Linked DNA regions of Homo sapiens. The protein of the gene in region 3 interacts with the protein of the main gene of each other region in a pairwise test. Each region holds a gene or a part of one and is shown on either strand. Other genes may lie near its edges.

Region 1 (3,500 bases), on a different chromosome or scaffold from region 3:
TACTTGACGCAAAACTCGTGCTTTTGATACCTCAAAATGTTTTCTAATTAGTCAGCTGACAGCCTTGGAAGTGCAGCTACTCACCAAGGGGCATCTCTCTACTTTACTGTATCTTGACCCTAGAAGTTTGTAGAATCATGCCTAACACACATACCAATTATTGACATTATTTGCAGCTGTAACAACCTGACAGCCCGTCTATGACAGTCCCCATCATTACAGCCTGTGAAATGGTGTCATATATACATTAAAGCGACTTACAGTTAGTTTTGTAAGATTTCTCAGGATAATTGAAGGGATGGAAATTGCTAGCTCATGCCTTCCTTGCAGAGGCAATTTGTAATATCTAACTAAAACACATATCCAGACGTCAATTTAAAATAAAAGTAGTATTTTATTTGTTGCTTCCTAAAATCCTATTTCTTTTCTTCCTTATTTTTTAGGTGGATTGAGGGGCATACAGTAAAGGGAGTAATAAATAACTGAAACCTAACATTGGCCCAGCTGGAGAGCCAATATTTAACAAAAATATTGCTGGAATTCTAGTTGTTATTGTTGGCAATTTGGTGGGAAAGAAATAATTCTGGTTTGAAATAAAGGGAGATCTAAAAGTAATTCTGAAGGGCCAGTCCATTCCTAATCCTTTATTTGAATTTACTCTAGGAGCTTCAGTAAGAAAAGAAATAAGAACAATATTTGAAGGATGGAAGGTCAAGGAAGTTAGTGCAATATTTCCGTATTTTTTGCCCTGTTGACTTTTTAAAAGATAAATGTTATAATATTTTTCTACATGAAAAATACATACACATTATATAAAATTTGGAAAATTTATAAGATAAAAGGATGAGAGAACGAGTGTCTTCCATATTTCTGCCCCTCCAGAAGATAATTACTAGTCTCATTTTGATGCATTTTTTTCTAAGTATAGGTCTTTTAAAAAATGTTTTTACATAGCTGTGATCACATTGAAAATACAATTCATGTTTGTGAAGTGCACTTTGTAAATGATAATAACTGAAAGAATAATCAACATTAGTCTTGGAATGTATGATTGTGCTTTAGTTTGAACAACAATAGGTTGGATATTCTGGGGATTACTTCATTTAAATCCAGGAAATAATACTGTGTGTATCTTGCTTGGGAAGAGTTGGAAAATTGTCTTGTGTTCTTATACTCCTAGTATCTCAGAATGCTTTATTTTGTCAAATGACAACTTAGAATATTCACTAAGTGGAGGACTAGGCCAAGGGCTACGATAGAAAATGTCGGGTCCCTGTGATCCCAAAAACATATGATTGATTTTATCACCAAGAAACTTAAAAGTTCTCTGAGGAGAGAAGACCTAACTGAATTTATTAAAAGCTTTTCATAACAGGAGTTATAAAACAAATGCAGATAATTACATACTTATTATATTTTGAAAATCTAAAGTATATAATTTAAAACTAAATACTACAATTTTATTACTATTAAAATAAATTATATTGCAAACTACATTCTCATAGAGGTGTTAGATAGCATTAGGTAAATGTTTAAAAGAATATAATTAATAACACGCATTGATTTCATGACATAAAAGGATTTTACTATTCCAGAACTGGTTGCTTTCAAAGGTTGAAAACACAGGAGAGGCATAAAGATGTTTATTATAGAGTATTGTATAATGATAATAACAAAAAACAGAAAGTAACCAATGTGTTCAACAGGATGATAATGGACAAATACATTACGTATTCATTTCCCATGGAATATTCTGGTACCATGAAATATGATGTTTAAAGAATAATTTTTAATGATGTAAAGTTTTTAAACATTTTAAAAATAAATGTTTGCATGGTAATATTAAACGTTAAAAATACTTCAATGGATGTCCATTGCTTTTGCAGTGCATATATAAATAGTTGTTTTTAGAAATGAGATCATATACCATACCACAATAGCCTGCTTTTCTATGTGTTTAATATTACTATTTTTTCCAGTCATTAAATATTCCTCTACAACACGATTTTTTAAAACCCTCAAGTACTCAATTTTTTAGATGTTCCATACTTGATTCTGCCGATCTTCTACTATTGGGCTTTCAGATCCTCCCTTTTAAAAATAATGCTTTGAATCTGCCTCTTTCACTGTTTCTCCCTCTCCCTCTCTCCTTCTCTCCCTGTATGCCTCTCTCTTCTTTTTTTTTTTTATTATTATACTTTAAGTTTTAGGGTACATGTGCACATTGTGCAGGTTAGTTACATATGTATACATGTGCCATGCTGGTGCCTCTCTCTTCTTTTGCCTCACTTTCTTAAAGCTAAATTATTAGAAGCTGAATTTTTATATGAAAAATATATGAATTTTATGTCTTTTGATTATTTCCATTTTTAAGATTCAGATATTCTAAAAGCTTGTTTTTACTTTTAGTTGGCAGTGAATGAATGCCTAAAAATGAAGACATTAACCCCCGAGCCAAACATATTCTCAACTAATGCTCTTTAGCAAGACAGGGCAGTCTCCTTGAATTTGGCTTCCATTTCTCTTATTTTGTTTACCACAAATTTACCACGTGCTTGAATGGGAACCCTCATAATCCTTTCCATTTTCCCTGCTGTCCAAGAGCAGTGTGGCCTCTCCATGTGGTCTGTCTATACAAGCCTTCACAATTTCTCTACAGTTCCCAGTTCTGCCAACAAGAATTTAATGCTTAACTCATAGGTACTTGTTTTTTCACTAAAGGGGAACAGCCAGTCCAGTCACACATGTTTCCCCTGTAGTTGTGACCTATCTACACAAAGGCTTTAGAGGTTCCTCTTTAAGTCCTTGAAGAATTGCACTACTTCACACAAGGTGTGGCAAATGCACATGCTAACCATCTCCACATTTGACCACCAGTGAAGAATACAAAAATTGTCCTATATCAACAACTTAATAAATGAGAGCTTTAAGCTGATGGTCTTTAAGCTGTTTCAGATAAAGAAAGTGGTACCTTCTGGTCTGTTCTGAGGACTTCACAGGGTAATACCACCTTTGTGATACAAAACTACTCCAAAGAAGTAAGTTGTATGTACAGATATCTTCAGGGTAGGAGCCAATTCCAATGGTTTTCAGCATGCCACTGGCTGGTGGTGTGGTTTTAGACACAAAGCAGCTACTTGTCCCATACTTGTTGAACGGTATTGCTAAATAAACCTAAAAGGTGGTCACAGTAAATGCCTGTGCCTAATGGCAAGACTTACTCAGTCCAGCAGAGCTTGTCCAGTAGCTCCTTCATTGTCATGTTGTCCCACTCTTCTGCAAGGGGAGCCTTCCATGGGGCATCACTCGGAATCTACATTCAGATGAGGATTCGAAGGAGAAAGACAAATGTAATTTTCTCTTTTATTTTATTCATTTTTGTAATTTTCCACTTTAAATAACTATTCAAATAGTATTAAAAACTCTACCTTAAAGAGGAAAAATGTTAAGTTTTCCAAATTCATCCAATATTGCTTTTACTGCATAATCAATGCTGTCTA
Region 2 (3,306 bases), on a different chromosome or scaffold from region 3:
TCCCGAGTAGCTGGGACTATAGGCGTGTGCCACCACGCCTGGCTAATTTTTGTATTTTTAATAGAGATGGGGTTTCACTGTGTTGCCCAGGATGGTCTCGATCTCTTGACCTCGTGATCTGCTCGCCTCGGCCTCTCAAAGTGCTGGCAAAGTGAGAATTTTAAGCACATCAAGCTAGGCTAGAGCCAGAGAATGAATGCAGTGGTCCACTGACTCACAGGAGAGGCCCTGTGGGACTATAGCTGGGGTTGGCCAGGGTAACAGTGAGCTTCAGGCTGAGCACGAGTTGGGGGGCAGGCTTGACTCCATGTAACTCACCCCCCTTGCCCTATGTCCCATTCTAGGAAGACCCTGGAGGCCTCAGCCATCTGCCGCTATGACCTGGCAGAGATCCAGGCTGTCTTTGCAGGACCCTATATGGAATACCAGGATGGTTCCCGGCGCTGGGGTCGCTATGAGGGTGGGGTGCCTGAGCCCCGGCCTGGCTCGGTGAGTGCCCAGGCCTGGGGCCAGTGCTGAGTAGACAGAGCCCAGGGAAGGGTCAAAGGGTCTGGCCTTGTGGAGAGGGCAGGCAGGTGGTGGAGTCCCGAGGTTCACCACCTTCGTCCCCCACGCCAGTGTATCACAGATTCATTGCGCAGCCAAGGCTACAATTCATCCCAAGACTTGCCATCCCTGGTCCTGGACTTTGTAAAGTTGCACCCACTGATGGCTCGGCCCGTTGTGCCCACACGTGGACGGCCCCTGCTGCTCAAGCGCAACATACGCTACACACACCTTACAGGGACACCTGTCACCACGCCTGCTGGACCTACCTATGACCTGCTCTTTCTGGGCACAGGTGCTTCTGATCCCAATCCCTGATCCCTGTTGGCCCTGATCACTAATGCTTCTGAATCCATTAATTCCTGCCATGACTAGTCTGGAGTTCCCAGTGTCCTGAGGGTCCACTGCTCCTGGCTGAGTCCTTGTTCTGGACCTCAGGACTCCTGAGCTGTTCGTATTAGGCCTCTTGCAGGGTGCTGAGAGCAGATCCCATAGTTGGGGTCTAACTCTCTGCTCTTTCCATACCAGCTGATGGCTGGATCCACAAGGCCGTAGTCCTGGGCTCTGGGATGCACATTATTGAAGAGACACAAGTGTTCAGGGAGTCCCAGTCTGTGGAAAATCTAGTCATCTCTCTATTGCAGGTAGCCCTTCTCTGTGACCCTTAATATAGCCTTGCTGAAATAGGAAGAGGGAGTGGGGAGGTTGGGCAGAGGCTGTGTATCTGTATGAGTGGGGACGCTGCCGACCAACTGTCCTATCTGGCTCCCAGCACAGCCTCTATGTGGGGGCTCCTAGCGGAGTCATCCAGCTACCACTCTCCAGCTGCTCCCGCTACCGATCCTGCTATGACTGCATCTTGGCCCGAGACCCCTACTGTGGCTGGGACCCTGGCACCCATGCCTGCGCAGCAGCCACCACCATAGCCAACAGGTCCCAGGGAAGCAGGTGGGAAGTGGTGGGGGGTGACAGTCACATGTGGTCTGAGTGGAGGAGGAAGGCCTGATAGCTACTGGGGGAGTGCAGGGGCTAGTTATTAGTAACAGACCTATCTACCCTTTCACTGGGAAACTGAAACCCAGTTCCCCTTGTTCATAAAACCTGATCTTCTGTCCCAGGACAGCACTGATACAGGACATAGAGAGAGGAAATCGAGGCTGTGAGAGCAGCAGGGATACAGGTAAGTGACTCATATGAGTGTGGGTCTAGCTACGCAGACTGTCCTCTTTGCCATTTACTGCCATGTGTACGTATATGTTTGTATCTGAGTGGCTGTGGCTATGTACATTTGGTAAGGATGACTCAAACACAGAGCCTGGCACAGAGTAAGTGCTCAACAAACATTTACTGCCCAAATGAATTATAAACTAGGAAACATATTTAAGATGTGAAGTGTCTTGTCACTTCTGGAGCTTATAGCCAAGTAGTGGATGACAAGGGTTCAGGACGGTAATGGGTATTTCCCCAAGGAAGATCGGATGACTGAACTGATATCTGAAGAAAGAACAAAAGTTAATCATCACAGCTAAGATGTATTAAGTATTTACTGTGTGCCAGACACTGATCTAAATACTTCTATGCATGATGTCATCTACTGTCACAGCATTCTTATGAGAAAGGTGCCATTATTATTATCCCCATGAGGGACCTCTCTGAAGCCCAGGGAGTGTAAGTAAATTGCTCAAACTTATTCAGCTATTAAGAAACTGGACCAGAATTCAAACCTGGCTGAGTACAGTGGCTCACGCCTGTAATCCCAGCACTTCGGGAGGCTGAGGTAGGTGGATTGCTTGAGCTCAGGAATTGGAGACCAGCCTGGGCAACATGGCAAAACCCCATCTCTACAAAAAATACAAAAATTAGCCGGGTGTGGTGGCACATGTCTGTAATCCCAGCTACTTGGAAAGCTGAGGTGGGAGGATCACTTGAGCCTGGGAGGCAGAGGTTGCAGTGAGCCAAGATCACACCATTGCACTCCAGCCTGGATAACAGAGTGAGACCTCATCTCATCTCAAAAAAAAAAAAAAAGAAAGAAAAAAGAATTCAAACCTGACCCCAAGCAGTCTGATTTGACTTTGTGCTTCTGGTCACTATACTATGCTATCTCCCACAAGTTAGCCAGGCAAGCAGAGGACATGGGGTAATGGGGTGACATGCAAGCAGAGGGAGCAGCAGGCAGAGGGAGGCTGGCACATTTGAGTGACAGGAGAATAGGCTGGACAAGTGGGCAAAGGCCATGTTGAAGATTTTGGTCTTTATCCGAAAAGCAATAGGAAACCTCTGAAGAGTTTTAGGCTGGAGAGTGGCATGATCAGATTTGTGTTTTTAAAATACCTCTCATGAAGAATGGATTACATGGGGCCAGAGTGGGCCAGGAGTCATGGAAGGAGAGAAATCAACAGGTCTAAGATAGATGCCAGAAACAGAATCTTAGTGACAGTTAGATACAAACGTGAAGAAGGGCCGGGCACGGTGGCTCATGCCTATAATCCAGCACTTTGGGAGGCCAAGGCGAGTGGATCACTTGAGGTCAGGAGTTCGAGACAAGCCTGGCCAACATGGTGAAACCCTGTCTCTACTAAAAATACAAAAACTAGCTGGGCATGGTGGCATATGCCTGTAATCCCAGCTACTCAGGAGCCAGAGGCAAGATAATCGCGTGAACCAGGGAGGTGGAGGTTGCAGTGAGCTGAGATCACGTCACTGCACTCCAGCCTAGGCGACAGAATGAGACTCCGTCTCAAAAAAACAAAACAAAAC
Region 3 (3,500 bases):
GCCCGGCCCCCACTACTGTTCTTTTCCTGATCTAGGATCTAACCCAGGATCCCACATGGCATTTACTCATCATGTCTCCAAAGTCTCTGAATCTATGGCAGTTGCCCGGTCTTTCCTTTTTTTCATGCCCTTAACACTTTTAAAGGGTACTAGTCAGTTATTTTGTAGAATGTCTCTCAATTTGACAACCCCAGACATTTAAAAACAGCTTAATTTTTTTTTTGACTAGATAACACATTCACCTGGTACAAAATGTGTGAGAAGACTGTTTTAAAAATTAGCTGCATCAGCGCATTAATAGGTCAGATTTTGTTTGCTTATACGACGACATATGTTGGTTATGGAAAACTTAGACAATATGCAAAGAGGTGGGATAGAAAGGCAAAATCCCCCTAAATCTTCCCTCTAAGAGCAATCACCATGGACCTTTTTGGTGAACATCTGTGCAGACCTCTCTGCACGTGTTCATGGGAGGCTTAATCACTGACATCTTTTCCCACAAATAGGCTCTCGTAACACTTGCTATTCTGCGACCTGCTTTTCCGCCCAGAGAAATGTCCTGGCCACTTTTCTGCATCTCAGATTTGAGTCTCAGAGCATCTTCTCTGTGGCTGTTCAGCATGGGATGACCCAGCCAGTCTCCTGTGGGACACATTTAGCATAAGGAAATCCATGCGTTGCACTAAGATCTCTGTAAGCGGGCAAGATGCTAGGCTGAGAGTGGAAGTGTTGGTGTGGTTCCTGGCTCTCGTTGTTCTGAAAGAGTCCCCTTCCCTCTCTATCTGTTTCATTACTGGTAACAGGGAGATGTGTAGGTTTCTCAGACTCAGGGCAAGGGAGAGGCTCAGGGCTCTGTGTGCACCCTGATGCTGAATCTCACTTCCCCTTCCAGGCAGGGTGCCCAGTCTACCCAGGATGAGGTCGCTGCATCTGCCATCCTGACTGCTCAGCTGGATGAGGAGCTGGGAGGTACCCCTGTCCAGGTGAGCCCAGCCCACCGCCTCTCTGGGCTGCAGCCTGAGCCTTGTCCTTCTCTTCACTCATCTGTCTGACTCTCATCCATCCATTCGTTTGTCCATCTGTCTGTCTGTCCATCCATCCATCCATCCATCCATCCATCCATCCATCCATCCATGGAACAGGTATTTATTTAGGGCTTCCATGTGTTCCACACTGCATCTGTAGCCATGGACACACAGACACACTGTCCCTGCCCTAGTGGACTTTGCTGTCTTGGGTGGTAGTAGACATTCAACACACAGGCACACCAATGGCTATGACAGATGCAGTGAGTGAAATTGACAAGACCTTGGGAGAGAGACATGGGAGAGGCCATGTGGCTGAGCACGGATGTGGAACCAGCATGCTTGGGTTTGAATCCTGTCCTCACCTCTGGGCAACGTTGGGCAAGTCACTTAGCCTCTCTGTGCCTCTGTGTCCTCAAAATAGGGGTAATAACAGTACCATCCCACAAGATTGCTGTGAGGATTAAGAGTTAACATTTGTAAGCATTTAGAATCATGCCTGCCATATAAGAAGTGCCCCCTTATACATATGTGTTAAGTACAAGGAGGTAAATCCTAGGTAGGATCCTATTGGATTAGAAAAGCCCACCCCTGTCCCAGGAGGGGACTGTTCAACTGGGACCTGATGCACGTGTAGGAGTTGCCCAGGCAGAGTGAAGGAAAGCACATTGTGGGTAAAGGGTGGTACACATGCAAAGGCCCTGAGGTGGGAGGGGGCATTGGGTGTTAAAGCAAGGGGAAAATGCCATGATTTGAGGCTAGAGAGGTGCTCAGAGGGGCCAGACCACCAGAGGCCATAGTGACGATGTTGACCTTGATGCTGAGAACAACAGGAAGTTGCTGAATGATAAGTCTGAGGTGTAGGGATTTCTGGTTTAAAAAGTCACTCTGGCCAGGCGCTGGAGGGCAGCAGAGCTGGTTTGTGGAAATATAGGGGAAGCGGACAACAACTGTGCTTCCTCCGTCCTACGGTGGGAGTGGGCAGGGCTCTAGATTGGCATCGGGGGTTCGTGCCCTGACCTTTGACTATGATAGACTGGGTGCTGGGCACTAAATGAGATGATGACCATCTTAGCTCAGTGCATCCTGACAACAGCCTTGGGAGTAGCATCCTTGGCTGCATTTTTCAGAGGAGGAACTCAAGAGGTTGAGACACGTGCCCAAGTTCTCACCATCAGGGTGGAGTTGGGGTCTAAGCCCTAACTCAGCGGTGGTGGGTCGTGGTGGGAAGCGACTGCCATATGCCTGACGTACATGTGAGGTTTTCTTCTGGACATAGTTAGCCGGGGCCACGGTAAGGTGCCGCACACAGGGCAGGAGCAGATGTGAGGGTGTACATCTTCCCTGCCTCACTCCCACCACCAAGCCCCTGACTGCTGCCCGCATCTGGGGTGCACTGGCTCTGCAGGAGGGGGTTTTCTGGATCTAGAATGCTCTGTTCTTACCACTCCACCAGCAGTCATGCCCAGGCCTGACGTCAGCATTCTGGAAGAATGTCCACCAGCAATCCCTGTGCTTCTATTTAAGGGAACATTTGCAAACACAGGCTCTCCTGGTTCTTGGACCAGGCTGAGGATCAGGAAGGCATGTCGTCATGGAGATGGAGAGCAGCCCAGCAGCAGTGCCCTGGGGACCTCAGACAATAGCACTGTCTCCACCCTTCCTGGAATTCTGGTGTCCCTGCCTGTGTGTTGTCGGGTCACATTCCATGCCACACACAGACACAAGCATGATGGCTTCGTCTGGAGGGATGGGCCCAGTGCGACATAGAAGGACTGAAGCCTGCCCCCAAGGTCCCTGACTTGCTCTCCTGTCTCCCTGCCAGAGCCGTGTGGTCCAAGGCAAGGAGCCCGCCCACCTCATGAGCCTGTTTGGTGGGAAGCCCATGATCATCTACAAGGGCGGCACCTCCCGCGAGGGCGGGCAGACAGCCCCTGCCAGCACCCGCCTCTTCCAGGTCCGCGCCAACAGCGCTGGAGCCACCCGGGCTGTTGAGGTAATTTCCAGGTCCTGGAACACAGAAGGGATTGGCCTCCCTGAAACCTCCCAGCTCAATGACCAGATCTCCAGGCACAGGAACGGGGGCAGGGGATGGTGAATGACGGGGTAAGAAGCAGCTTTTTGTATTTTCCTGCCGTGGCCACAGGGTTGTCTGTCTTAGACTCCCCCCTGTTTCAAGGATACCCAGTGTCCCTTGCACACTTTGCACAGTGGACAGCTCACTACCTACCATTCTGTACAATCAGCATGCCATTCCTGATTACGTTCCAGTTGCCTACTATCCCTTTCACGGAGGAAGGCACAGATCTGGACTTGATTCCCAGGATGGTCTGAGCAGCCTAGAGGGGAATGGGACTCTCACCTCCTTTGTTCTGGGCATTCAACTTCTGTTAATGCAGCCCTGATTTTTAGAATCATGTTGGCTAGTCACAGTGCATTAGTGACTCATGGGAGTCAACCAAGGCCATCAGGGTC
Region 4 (3,500 bases), on a different chromosome or scaffold from region 3:
GAAACTTTGGTGGGTGGAGATAATCAGCCGAAAGCTCGGCTCAAGTCCAAGGATCAAGAGATGAGCACCCTCCTCGCTCCACCCCTCCCTCCAGCACCGCCAAGCTACAAACCAGGGATGGCAGCTCTGGGGGCGGGCGAGGGGCCGAGGAGAAGCCCTCACTGCAAGCTCAGCCTCAGGTCTGAGAGGGTGCGGACGGGAACCTGCAAGGAGGAAACGTGAGGAGGAGGCCGGGAGGAGAGGAGGGGGGGCAGGGCCTGCAGCCAGGGCCCAGTCTCAGAGGTGCCCGGCAGGGTTAGTGGGCACAGAGGAGGTGCAGCTGCGCCCCTCCTCCCCAGGCTGGGAGGCAGGAGGTACCAGAAGGGGCGCAGGAGGCGGCAGGCAGGACGCTCTGGGATGCAGGGCCAGGGGGCCTGGGTGGAGGGCACGGGAGGCTGGGACCAGGGCAGACCCGGGATGGAGGCGTGAGCAGGCAGAGAGAAAACCCGGACAGGGGCAGAGAGGGAAGAGGCAGGGTGCAGATGAGATCCAGGAGGAAGAAGAGGTGGATGAAGATGAGGCAGGACCTCCAGCGGGAAGCGGAGGAGGAGGCAGTGGTGGGAGGGAGAAAAGGTTAGCGGGATCCTGAGATGACTGGGCTGCAAAGAGAAAGTGAGAGAAGGGATGGTTATGCGGGTGAGGCGCCAGGCAAGTGGCTGAGCTAACCCTGGTGCCCCCCCAGCAGCCCCGGGGCCCCCGGTTCTGCAGCTGGCTCCAGCAAGGAGTGGGCGGGAGGCTCCGGCTTTGCTTAGCAATCATCCTCCTGGGGGTTGGCTGCACCTTTCTCCTGTGCATCTGCCTCCACCTGCACCTGTTCCACCTCCACCTCCTCCACCTCCTCCTCCTGCTGCTGCTGCTCCTCCAGCTGCTCCTCCGTGCTCTGTGAACCAGCCGGCGGACCCAGGGAAGAAAGAGTGGAGACACTAACAGAGGGGCCAGGGCCTGCTGGCTATCCCCAAAGACCCGGTCTCAGGCAAGGTGAAAGGGACCTCAGGAGAGGGGAGGGCTCCAGCCACAGAAGCTGGGGGCATCTTCTCCGGTCCCCTGGGCAGCTTGGGGAGGGCCTGGGGAAAGCAGCTGAGGATGGGATGCTGTGGGCATGCTCCGGGGTCAGCCTGGCTGCTGTTACATAGAGCGAGGCTGGAGGGAGGGGATGAAGCAGAACAGGGAGGGTGTGGGACTGGGGTATCCCTGAGGGGTGCCTGGGAAGGCCTTGTTTGGAAAGACTGCTCCTCAGTAGAAATGTGGCCAAGGAAGCCCCAGGGCAGACACCACCCAGATCTGGGATGCCAGCCAGTCTCTGACACCCCAGGTCCAGGGGCTTTGGCCCAAAGAGGCAGAAGGAGCAGTCTCGCTCTGCACCCTTGCAGGGCAGCGTCAGCCCTGGCAGTGGTGGGGGTGGGTGGGCAGGCAGGGTGCGTCACAGCAGGACAGGGAGGCAGACAGATAGACAGGAAGCCAGAGGTAAGCCTCCACTGTGTGGGGTTGGGCCCCAGGAGGAGCAGCCTGCCTTCTTCCCAGCCTGGTTCACGCCTGCTCTGTGGCTCTGCGAAGGCCCTTGGGACTTCCCACAGCACTGGGTCCAGGATGGCAGGACCCCCGCTCAGCCCTCTCCCCACAGTGGTACAGTGGATGCTGCCAGGGTGCTCTCAGGAGGCTGCCTCAACAGGCCAGGCGGACACACAGGACTGGCAGCCACCAGGCTGCCCCTATCCTGCAGAGCAGCCAAGGAGGGGGCCTGGGAAAGGGGCAGGATTTACAGCGGTGGCTTCCTCATCCTGGCTCAGGCCAGCTGGGGACATGCACCTGTCCCTGGGGAATAAACGGCCATTTGGGATCCCAGAAGTTCCAGGCTCCAAGGCACTACAAAGAGTATGTGATCCTCCCCTCTCACTTCAGAGAGTGCAGCAAAGGTGCTGGGAGAGGACAAGCCCTGTCCTAAGTCACACAGAGAGTGCCACACTGTGCCCTGACCCCTAGTCCATGCCACAGTGCCCAGTGGCCACTAAGCGGCCCCCTTCATGTAGCCTCTGAGTCCACGCCGGCTGCACCCTGGGGATGCTCTCATTTCACTGCTCCCAGCCTGGGCCTGGGTAACGGCAGGTGGCATGGGATGGATGGCGGTGGCTGTGAGCATGGGGTTGTGCATGGGCGGTGGCGGGAGAGAGGTGGAGGGATGGTGCAGGCGCAGGGGCGGGACAGGCGGGGAGGGTGGAGGGAGACAGGAGACTTCTCCGGACACAGGCTGAGGCGGGTGGGCTCACCTTGGTTTTGCGGCTGGACTCTGAGCTCAGCCCGTTTGGGGTGCTGTGGAGCTCCTTGGACACCACACACAGGAACTCTGCCTGGTCCTCGCTGCCGTAGTTGTAGGAGGAGCCGATGTTCACCAGCTAGAGGGGCGGAGCATGGGGAGAAAAATGCAGGTTGGTGTTGGGGGCCGTGGGGCAGGATACGACAGACCTCGGCACTCAAATCAAGATACCAGCTCAGGTCCTAATCTTGCGGCTTGTCGGGCCCACTCCTGGGTTTGTAGAGGGCACCTCTGGGCAGGAAGGTGGAGTCTTCCCCCTTGCAACCTGTGCCTGTGGTCTGTGCCCCAGGACCAGCCCCTCCGCCTGGCTTGGCTGGCCCGATCCCTGGTGGAGGGTGGCAGCATTACCGCTGTCCCCACCACCACCTCCAGCCTAGCCCCAGAGCCAGGGGGCCCTTTTCTAAATGCAGGCGGAGGCCTCTAAAGGGCGGCTGTCCCCCATTCCAGATGTGGCTGACACAGCCCCAGGACAAGGTTGCAGGGTGGCATTGGCAAGGTGGAGCCCCACAGAATATTCCCTTCACTCCTGGAAGCAGAGGTGGGACGACAGGTGGTCCACTCCTGAGACCAAAGGGCAAATGACCAATGGTCCCTGGCCTGCTTGCTCAGCCTCTGAGAGCCTGTGCAATTGCCAAAGACACCCAGAGGCTCTCAGAGTGGCCCTGCCCTTGTTCCAGGGTCCCTAGAATAACCACGCCCACAGAGCCCTTCTGGCTAAGAAATAAGAAAGTTCTTCCAGGTGATGAGTCTCATTCAGCTCTCAGGGACCCTGAAGAGAATCTCAGGCCTGCTGAAGGCCTCACAGCTAGGAAGGGGTGGAGCAGGGAATGGCATCGGGGATCCCAAGTCCTCTCTGAGTGTTGCAGACTTCAATATGGATTTCTAATGATTTGCATGACACTAATGCCAACATAGGGAGTCCTACGGAGGGCTGTAAGCTTTACTGATGGCCCTTCTAATCTCACAAGAGTCCTACAGAGGAGGTACTGTTAGCCCACTTCACCGATGAGGGAACTGGGTCCCGCACAGGAGATGTAACTTGCCCAAGGTGGCAGGCATGTCTGTGGCAAGGCCTAGAGGTGAAGCCAGGCCTCTGGCTCTGCACTAGGCCCATTCTTCCATCCCTCCAGGCCATCCTGGGGGCTCCGAC
Region 5 (3,500 bases), on a different chromosome or scaffold from region 3:
ATTTTTTATTTTTGAGACAGAGTCTCGCTCTGTCGCCCAGCCTGGAGTGCAGTGGCACGATCTCGGCTCACTGCAAGCTCTGCCTCCCAGATTCATGACATTCTCCTGCTTCAGCCTCCCGAGTAGCTAGGACTACAGGTGCCTGCCACCACGCCCGGCTAATTTTTTGTATTTTTAGTAGAGATGGGGTTTCACCATGTTAGCCAGGATAGTCTCGATCTCCTGACCTCGTGATCCGCCTGCCTCGGTCTCCCAAAGTGCTGGGATTACAGGCGTGAGCCACCACGCCTGACCTACATTTTTAGTAGAGATAGAGTTTCACCATGTTGGCCAGGCTGGTCTCAAACTCCTGACCTCAGGTGATCTGCCCACCTTGAGCCCCCCAAAGTGCTGGGATTACAGGCGTGAGCCACTATGTCCGGCCCTACTACCACCAAATTTGACACATCATTTGCAAGCACTGACATAGCAATTAAGCACATTTGCATATTCATCTGTACTCATTTTATGTTAAGCCCACCAGGTCTGAAGTCATTTACATCAGTTTCATGTTAATTATCAGAGGGGGTCTAAAAGACTACCTTATTCATGCCTACAAAGCTGGTGTCATATTTGCATAGATCAGCATGCCCATTTATATGCCACCTTCAAAGTACACCCAAGCTTCCCCAGTAGGGTCCAAGACACAGCTGATCAAGACACAGCTGATCAAAGAGAGCTCCTCCCTCTGCCCATGTGCTCACCTGCGCTGCCCTGTCTGGGCCTCAGTCTGGTTGATCCAGTTCTTATAGAGGTGGACAGGGTCTGTGTGGACGCTGAGCACTTTGTCTTCTAGCACATCCTGGATAACCTTGCCCAGAATCTCCTGCAGGGCACTCTGTCCCCGCCCATTACGGTAGAATCTCACCACCAGCCTCACCACTGTTGGGTTGCCTGTCACCACGTCCTGGGGCTGCTCCACCTTTGACCTGTGGTTTAAGAGGTCATTGAAACCAGTCTTCTGCCTCTGTGTAGGACATACCGTTGCTTTTCCTTTTTGAGATTTTGGCTCTCAAAGCCTGCCCTGGTGTCCCCGCTCTTAAGGAATGTCTTGATATCTCTCTCATCCTTTGTGTTAGCATGTCAGCCCATATCCTCCCACTGTGCTGTCCCAGATGTTTTACGGTTTCTCCACAGGAGGTAGAGAAAAGAGGTCTTCTGATTCCATTTCTACCCTTAGGCCTCAACAAGTTGTCACCTTGTGAAGGAGCCAACAGGGGGATCTCTTAACCCATTCTCTCCCCATTCCTTTGTGTCTGGAGAGCCTACTTGATTTCCTCCTGGAGTGCTGTCTTGAACAGCTGGAGCAGGAGATAGGCCTCTCGGCGGCTGGAGGCATAGTTGTACAGGCTGAAAATCACTGCCTCCATGAACTTGGTGGTTTTGTTCTGTGGCATCTGAAAGATCAGCTTGGCCAGGTAGATGGGCTGAGTCTGCAAGCAAGAGGGGAGACAGGAATGGCTGACCATGCACTTCAAGGACCAGTGATAGGATAAGGAAAGGCTTTCCCCTGATGGAAATCTGGAATGGAGAAAGCACTACCACACTTTCTCCAGGTGCTAGTAACATTCCAGACAAACAGGGGAAGAGGTAGTCTCCTTTCCTGGGGATAAGGAATTAAGATTATGGGAAAGGACACCTTGCATGGTGCCAAACGCACAGACAAGAAGGCCTTGAAGTCTCAGACCCTCAGGAGACGGGAGAGACTTCTCCTTGGAAAGTCCTCTGCTAACCTGGAGCAGGTAGAAGAGGTGTTGGTATGCTTCTAGTTTCTGCCGTTTCTCTTTGCTCAGCGACTTTAAACCCTTCTGCTTGTCCAGAACCATCATATCTGACAGCTGTTCCTTATTCCTCTTGGTCAGCTTCTTGCAGTGGGAGACCACTTCCTGCAGGGGTGGAGGAGCGGGTGATACAACTAGCCTAGGCCATCCCAGGGCACAGAACATACGGTCTAGAATCAGTGCCTTGAAGAGCCAGGGCTTTCTGCTGTTCAAGGAACAGGCATAAGCTGGGGGACAGAAGCAGTTCTAGGGTGAGGAAGGGCCCCTCCAAGTGCCCTGAGACTCCATCTGTTTCCTCTCCTGTCATGGGAGTGAGTCCCCAAAGAGAACTGGTTTGCCAGGCTGAGGAATTGTGTCTATTTGGCTTTTGCTATCTCTTCTTATTAGACTGCTACACACATTTGAGGTGGAGCTATCACTATATCACTATTACCCTGTCACTGCATATTTATATGGTAATTTATGATTTAAACAGCTTTCATATCTGTCTCTATATTTGGCCTGGAGAGGTGGACATTCTCATTATTCTCAGTTTGCTAATGAGAAAACAGACTTAGAAGTGAAATGAGCACCCACAGCCCCATCCCTGGGAATCAGCAGAGCCAGGCATTCTGATTCTAGGTTTCATGCTCTTTCTACTCTGTCATGGGTCCCCCAAAATGATTTATTAGAATGGCAGAGGGCCACTGGAACAAGGACCTGAGTCAGGTGACAAAATCCACAACATTTTGAAAAAAATTGATTAGCAAGCAGAGAATGGTCAGCATCACATCTCCAGAGGCAGGCAGATCTCGGGGAGGGGAGGACTGGTGGGCCCCATACCTGCAGAGTGATCCGGTTCTTCACCAGCAGGCCAATCTTGATGTCCATGATGTTGAGGTCCTGCTCCAGCTGCTGATTGGATCGGATCTTCCTAACTACCTCTTCCTGGAGCTTCAGCAGCTCTGCCTCAGCCAAGAAGTCTTGCTGGCTTTGATTCAAGAGATGGGCAAATCTGCGTACCACACTGAGAGGAGGGTGGGGTGCATGCACTGGGAGGAAGGGAGGAGGCATCAGGATTAGCCATGCCTCATCAGAGGCCTCCTCACCAGCCCCTGCCCGAGTCAGCCCACCCCAGTCCCCGTTCTGCTTGGGATCAGCAGGTCCCCAACCCCAGTCCTCTTCTAACTGGTTCTGCTTGCACTTGGAGGGCAGTGGGTAGCCTTCTAGCCAGGCCTGTCCCTGAGCTTCCTGTCTTATAACTGGAGATGACATAATAGCTGCTCTTCCCATGCCTCTGATTCACCCCAGCCTGGGTCTATCCCAGGGACCTCTGACACCAAAGCCAGAGCCACAGCTCCCTCTGATTATCCTCCCAGACCTCCCTAGTCTACCCCAATCTACCACTCACTTCTGCTGGGCCAACCTGCTCCTCCTCCTCCTCCTACCTGCCAGCCACCACTCAGCCCTGCTTGCTCCCACAGTGCTCCTCTGTCAGGAATGTCTGTACACACCGGGAAGGACAGGTAGACGGGATGGACAGTGGGCTTTATAATTTAGGGGAGGTCAGAGCTAGCTGGTGATTCTCCTTGAATCACCTTTGGAATTGGCATTTGAGCAAAAAAGAAAGAAGCCTCTGAGCTAATTTATTGGAAATAACAACAAAACAACTAATACATAGAATGTTTACTATGAGACAGA
Region 6 (2,497 bases), on a different chromosome or scaffold from region 3:
GAGATCAGGAGTTCAAGACCAGCCTGGCCAACGTAGTGAAACCCTGTCTCAACTAAAAATACAAATTAGCTGGGCATGGTGGTGGGCACCTGTAATCCCAGCTACTAGGGAGGCTGAGGCAGAAGAATCGCTTAAACCCGCGAGGTGGAGGTTGCAGTGAGCGGAGATCACGTCATTGCACTCCAGCCTGGGCAACAAGAGCAAAACTCTTTCTTCCCGCCAAAAAAAAAAAAAAAACCAACAACAAACCAAAAAAACCGCCCCCCAAAAAAAAGGTTTCTCTTCTCCCACTTAGCATTTTAAATGTAAAACTGAAGCTTTAAATTCTTTGAGCCATTCAGCTCTTAACTGCCAGCTCACACTATTTCACAGCATATCCATAGATATGAGGGCGCACCAACTCCCAGGACAGTGGGGCCTGGATGTGCTGCAGCTTCAGCTTAGAGAAGCTGGCCCGCTCCAGGGCCTTCCAGCTCTCTCTGGTCAGGTTGCACCCATCAAACAGAAGGTGCCAGGCAGGATCCAGGACTTGTTGCCAGAAGTAATTCCAAGTCGAACACTCAGCTGCCACATGCTCCATGAAATAGAAAGCCCCTCCCTGAGAAAGAAAGAAAAAAAAAAACATTTCAAGGATTTTTTCATTTCTGCTTTTTTAATTTATTTTTTGAAAATTGTTCTCTGGCACTGCCTTGCAAACCTGTGAGAGAACCGTAGAGTTCTGAGCAGGAGGGTCACTCCACACTAAGCACACCCTTGAGACTGAATAACCATGTTTTAAATTTTTGTGCCATTTTCACAAATATGTACGTGATATGATTAATGAAAATTCTGATTCATCTAAAATCATTACTGAATTCAAGGTAACATTTTGTCATTAGGTATTTTATTCAGTCAGTGGATGCTAAATGTAAATTACTCTTTGTAGGAATTAGCAACTGCTGCTTTCATTGAGGAGTTTTATAAATGTTGATCAAGTACAGGCACAATAGATGTTATTACATGTTATGTGTGGGGACATCTTCAGAAGTTTTCTACATATCTACCTCTGAGGGGAGTAAGGAGCAAGGGACCAGACAGTCACCTCACAAAATTGTGGTAACTGCACCACTCTTCTTGGCCTCCTCTAGTTATCCTAGTCTTGGCTCCTCAGGCAGAGTTTAGAGAGAGAATTCAGTTTAGTGATGGAGTTTCCCCAAATTATATGGGTCAGTGTAAGACCTATGTTACGAATAGAAAAATTGGAATTTCCTGATTTATTTATTCATTTATTATTTCTTGAGACAGGGCCTGGCTCTGTCACCCAGGATGGAATGCAGTGGCACAGTCTCAGCTCACTGCAACCTCTGCCTCCTGGGCTCAAGCAATCCTACTGCCTCAGCCCCCCAAGTAGCTGGGACAACAGGTGCACACCACTACACCCAGCTAATTTTTTTTTTTATAGAGACAGAGTTTCGCCGCATTGCCCAGGCTGGTCTCGAACTCCTGAGCTCAAGTGATCCTCCTGTCTAGGCCTCCCAAAGTGCTGGGATTACAGGCGTGAGCTACCGTGCCCGGCCCTGATTTTAAAAAAAATCTTCATAGGATAGGGCAGCATAAAGGAGGAGAGGCAGGTTTGGGGAGGTCAGTGTTGCCCTCTGGTTTACATATGTTAAGAGGTGCCTCTGAGCAATCCAGGAGACTGTTGAGTAGACGGCTGGATATGAAGGTTTGGGGTCAGAAGAGAGACCTGGGATAGATGTTTAGATTTGGAAACATCTGTATATATGTGGTATTTGAGAACTGTGGAGGTATATGAGATTGCTGGGGAGTGTATATAAGTGAAATGAACCAATGAAAGGAGTTAGCCAGCTTGCTTTAGGCAGACAGTAGGGAAGGGTCCCGGAAGAACTTCTGACCAGTCCCACAAATGGTTACATGAGATGTTTTGTGCAGATAAGGGAACTTGCACAGGGGCTTGCCTAAACATGCCTGCAGCCCACTAAGGCCCCACATGCACGCTGGGGGAATGGGGTGGAGCCACCAGGAATTCATGCCTTTACAAACAGGGAATCCAGCTCCATCAGCTTTTCAGTTGCGAAGGGGGCAACCAGCAACCTGTTTTCAGGACCCCTCTTTTTGCTGAGAGCTTTCTGTTTCGCTTGATAAATTCTACTCCACTCACTCTTCCATGTTCACGTGCCTATTTCTTCCTGAATGTGAGACAAGAACCTGGACCTAGCTGAGCTAAGGAGCAAAAATCCTGTGTCACCAAGAAAGGAACCCCAGTGGTAGGAGATGGGTAGAGGAAGAAGAGCCAGCAAGAGTGATAGCAATGTTGAAATCAGAAAGATGAAAACCCCAATAACAAGCACTGTGGTACAGTGGTAAGAATATTTGCATTTGCATTTGGCTGGGCGCGGTGGCTCACACCTGTAATCCCACCACTTTGGGAGGCCAAGGTGGGTGGATCACTTGAGGCCAGAAGTTGGACACCAGCCCGGCCAACATGGTGAAACCC
Region 7 (3,500 bases), on a different chromosome or scaffold from region 3:
CAGAAGAAAAAGTAGAAAATCCACAAATAGGTTGAAATTAAACAGCACATTTCTAAATAACCAAGAGTCAAAGAAGAAATCAAAAGGAAAATTATAATAGAAAGTACTTTGAGATAAATGAAAACAAAAATATAATGCACCAAGATTTATGGGATGCAACTAACACTATGCTTAGAGGGATATGTATAGCTGTAAATGCTTTTATTAAAAAGAATCTCGGCCAGGCGCAGTGGCTCACACCTGTAATCCCAACAGTTTGGGAGGCTGAGGTGGGTGGATCACCCGAGGTCAGGAGTTTAAGACCAACCTGGCCAACACGGCGAAACCCTGTCTCTACTAAAAATACCAAAATTAGCTGTGCGTGGTGGCAGGCGCCTGTAATCCCAGCTACTCAGGAGGCTGAGGCAGGAGAACTGCTTGAACCCAGGAGGCGGAGGTTGCAGTGAACTCCAGCCTGGGCAACAAGAGTGAAACTCCTGTCTCAAAAAAAAAAACAACAAAAAAAAAAACCTTAAATAATCTAATCTTCTACCTTAAGAAACTAGAAAAAGAAGAGCAATCTAAACCCATAGTGACCAGAAGGAAGGAAATAATACAATTTAGAGTGAAAATAAATAGTAAAGAAAAACAATCAACATCAAAAGTTGGTTCTTTGCAAAGATCAACAAACTCAACACACCTTTAGCTAGACTGATCAAGAATAAAAGAGAGCACAGTGGCTCACACCTATAATCCCAGCATTTTAGGAGGCTGAGGTGGGAGGATCCCCTGAACCCAGGAGTTCAAGACCAGCCTGGGCAACATAGGGAGACCCTATCTCTACCAAAAAATACAAAAATTAGCCTGATGTGGTGGTACATGCCTGTAGTTCCAGCTACTCAGGAGGCTGAGGTGTAAGGATCACTGAACCCAGGGAGGTTGAGGCTGCACTGAGCGGTGATTGAGCCACTGCACTCCAGCCTGGGTAAGAGAGTGACACCCTGTCTCAATCAGTCAGTCAGCAAGAGGCCAGGTGAGGTGGCTGAAAAAACCCTATCTCTACTAAAAATACAGAAATTAGCCAGTTATGTTGGTGTGTGCCTGTAGTCCCAGCTACTCGGGAGGCTGAGGCAGGAGAATCACTTGAACCCGGGAGACAGGTTGCAGTGAGCCGAGATTGTGCCACTGCATTCCAGCCTGGGCGACAGAGTGAGACTGTCTAAAAAAGAAAATAAAGAGATAAAAATAATTAGAATACTATAAACAACTGTATGCTAACACATTTAGATAACTTAGATGAAATGGACAAATTCCTAGGAAGTCACAGACTACCAAACTTGCCTCAAGAAGAAATAGATAAAAATCAACTGACTGTAAATGTAAGGGTTTACTTCTGGACTTTCAGTTCAATTCCTTTGGTCTATAGACCTATAACGAAGAGATTGAATTAGTAATTTTAAAACTTCCTGCAAAGAAAAGTCCAGGTCCAGATAGTTTCTCTGGTGAATTCTACCAAACATTTAAAGAATTATACCAATCCTTCAGACTCTCTCAAAAAAATAGAATAGAAGAGGAGGGAACACTTTCCAACTCATTTTGAGGCCAGTATTACTCTGATACTAAAACTAGACCAAGATATCACAAGAAAAGGAAATTATGGTCTGGTATCCTTTATGAATACAGATACAAAAATACTCAACAAAATACAAGCAAAACAAATTTAGCAACACATAAAAAGGATTATAAATCATGACCAAGAGGAATTTATCTTAGGAATGCAAGGTTGGTTTAAATTTGAAAACCAATTAATATACCATACTAATAGCATAAAAGACAAAAACCACATAATCATGTCAATAGACACAGAAAAAGCATTTTGACTGACATCATTTTGTGATTAAAACACTCAACAGACCAGGAATAAAAGGGAATTTTCTCAGCCTCACAAAGGGCATCTATGAAAACCCAGTTAACATCATACTTAATGGAAGAAGACTGAATGTTTCCACTCCTAAATCAGCAACAAGACAAAGATCTTGCCACTCTGTTTACCATTGCACTAGAGATTTTATGCAGGGAAATTTAGCAAGAAAAAGAAATAAAAGATACCCAGATTAAAAAGGAAGAAGTAAAATTATCTGTTTGCAGAAAATATGATCTTATGTGTAGAAAATCCTAAGGAATCCACTTAAAAAAATTAGAAAAAATGAGTTCAGCAGTGTGACAGGATACAAAAATCAATTGTACTTCCGTATGGTAGGATTTTATCCAAAAAATGAAACTAAGGAAATAATTTCATTTACAATAGAATCAAATAGAATAAAATACTTAGGCATAAATTTAACAAAACAGTGCAAGACATACACTGGAAACTATAAAACTCATTGAAAGAAATTAAAAATGTAAATAATGGAAAGACATTACATGTTCATTGATCAGAAGACTTAAGATAGGAATATGCCCCAATTGATCTACAGAATCAGTGCAGTCCTTATCAACATCTCAGTTGTCCTTTTTGCAGATACTGACAGTCTGATCCAGAAATTCATGACATCCGAGGGATCTAGAAAAGCCAAAACAAGCTTGAAGAGTAACAAAGTTGGAGGAATCACATGTACTGATTTCAAAATTACTATACAGTTACAGTACTTAAGATGGTTTGATACTGTCATAAAGGTAGACACATTATAGATCAAAGGAATTGAAAGTCCAGAAGTAAACCCTTGTATTTATGGTCAGTTGTTTTGTTGTTGTTGTTGTTGTTGTTTTTAGAATCAGGGTCTCAATTTGTTACCCAGACTGGAGTGCTATGATCACACCCAGAGTGCTGATGTGATCATAGCTTTATTGAGATATGATTCATATACCATAAAATTTGCCCATTTAAGTATGTACCCCCGAGAGATAGGAAAACGTATGTCTGCACAAAAACTTGCACACAAATGTTCTTAGCAGCGTTTCTCATAATAGCCAAAAAGTGGAAACAATCCAAGTAGTCATCAACTGATGAACATCAACTGGTAAACAAAATGGTATATCTAGGGTTGAGTGCAGTGGCTCACGCCTGTAATCCCAGCACTTTGGGAGGCTGAGATGGGGCAGATCACTTGAGGTCAGGAGTTCAAGACCAGCCTGGCCAATATGATGAAACCCCGTCTCTACTAAAAAAATACAAAACTTAGCCAGGCATGGTGGCAGGCACCTGTAATTCCAGCTGCTCAGGAGACTGAGGCAGAAGAATTGCTTGAACCCAGGAGGCAGAGGTTGCAGTGAGCCAAGATTGCGTAGCTGCACTCCAGCCTAGGTGACAGAATAAGACCCTGTCTCAAACAAACAAACAAAATAACACAAAATGGTATATCTATATAATGGAATATTATTTGGCAATAAAAAAGAGTGAAGTATTGATACATGCTACAACATGGATGGACCTCCAAGCATTAGGCTCAGTGAAAGAAGCCAGTCACAAAAGACCAGATATTGTATGACACATAAAAGGCCCAGAATAGGCAAATCTGTAG

The links.
Region 1: the proteins of GSN (region 3) and MAOB interact in binary tests that used the Homo sapiens proteins (3 or more experiments, as listed by UniProt).
Region 2: the proteins of GSN (region 3) and SEMA4G interact in binary tests that used the Homo sapiens proteins (3 or more experiments, as listed by UniProt).
Region 4: the proteins of GSN (region 3) and KCTD17 interact in binary tests that used the Homo sapiens proteins (3 or more experiments, as listed by UniProt).
Region 5: the proteins of GSN (region 3) and IQGAP3 interact in binary tests that used the Homo sapiens proteins (3 or more experiments, as listed by UniProt).
Region 6: the proteins of GSN (region 3) and TMT1A interact in binary tests that used the Homo sapiens proteins (3 or more experiments, as listed by UniProt).
Region 7: the proteins of GSN (region 3) and AUNIP interact in binary tests that used the Homo sapiens proteins (3 or more experiments, as listed by UniProt).

Annotation. Positions count from the first base shown.
Region 1 is NC_000023.11:43,798,951-43,802,450, forward strand, and holds part of MAOB (amine oxidase [flavin-containing] B), read right to left. Parts: intron 3,314-3,500; coding exon 3,222-3,313; intron 1-3,221.
Region 2 is NC_000010.11:100,979,504-100,982,809, forward strand, and holds part of SEMA4G (semaphorin-4G isoform 1 precursor), read left to right. Parts: intron 1-344; coding exon 345-489; intron 490-618; coding exon 619-841; intron 842-1,074; coding exon 1,075-1,190; intron 1,191-1,318; coding exon 1,319-1,494; intron 1,495-1,664; coding exon 1,665-1,726; intron 1,727-1,872; exon of another isoform or gene 1,873-1,959; coding exon of another isoform or gene 1,960-2,040; intron 2,041-3,306. UniProt on the Homo sapiens protein: Cell surface receptor for PLXNB2. May play a role in axon guidance.
Region 3 is NC_000009.12:121,323,662-121,327,161, forward strand, and holds part of GSN (gelsolin), read left to right. Parts: intron 1-892; coding exon 893-983; intron 984-2,850; coding exon 2,851-3,021; intron 3,022-3,500. UniProt on the Homo sapiens protein: Calcium-regulated, actin-modulating protein that binds to the plus (or barbed) ends of actin monomers or filaments, preventing monomer exchange (end-blocking or capping).
Region 4 is NC_000022.11:37,058,242-37,061,741, reverse strand, and holds part of KCTD17 (BTB/POZ domain-containing protein KCTD17), read right to left. Parts: intron 2,430-3,500; coding exon 2,304-2,429; intron 920-2,303; coding exon 820-919; intron 639-819; coding exon 567-638; coding exon of another isoform or gene 204-566; coding exon 113-203; coding exon of another isoform or gene 1-112. UniProt on the Homo sapiens protein: Substrate-adapter for CUL3-RING ubiquitin ligase complexes which mediates the ubiquitination and subsequent proteasomal degradation of TCHP, a protein involved in ciliogenesis down-regulation.
Region 5 is NC_000001.11:156,538,066-156,541,565, forward strand, and holds part of IQGAP3 (ras GTPase-activating-like protein IQGAP3), read right to left. Parts: intron 2,852-3,500; coding exon 2,643-2,851; intron 1,926-2,642; coding exon 1,773-1,925; intron 1,473-1,772; coding exon 1,309-1,472; intron 969-1,308; coding exon 744-968; intron 1-743.
Region 6 is NC_000012.12:50,928,015-50,930,511, reverse strand, and holds part of TMT1A (thiol S-methyltransferase TMT1A precursor), read right to left. Parts: intron 599-2,497; coding exon 362-598; 3' UTR 1-361. UniProt on the Homo sapiens protein: Thiol S-methyltransferase that catalyzes the transfer of a methyl group from S-adenosyl-L-methionine to alkyl and phenolic thiol-containing acceptor substrates.
Region 7 is NC_000001.11:25,849,458-25,852,957, reverse strand, and holds part of AUNIP (aurora kinase A- and ninein-interacting protein), read left to right. Parts: intron 1-3,500. UniProt on the Homo sapiens protein: DNA-binding protein that accumulates at DNA double-strand breaks (DSBs) following DNA damage and promotes DNA resection and homologous recombination.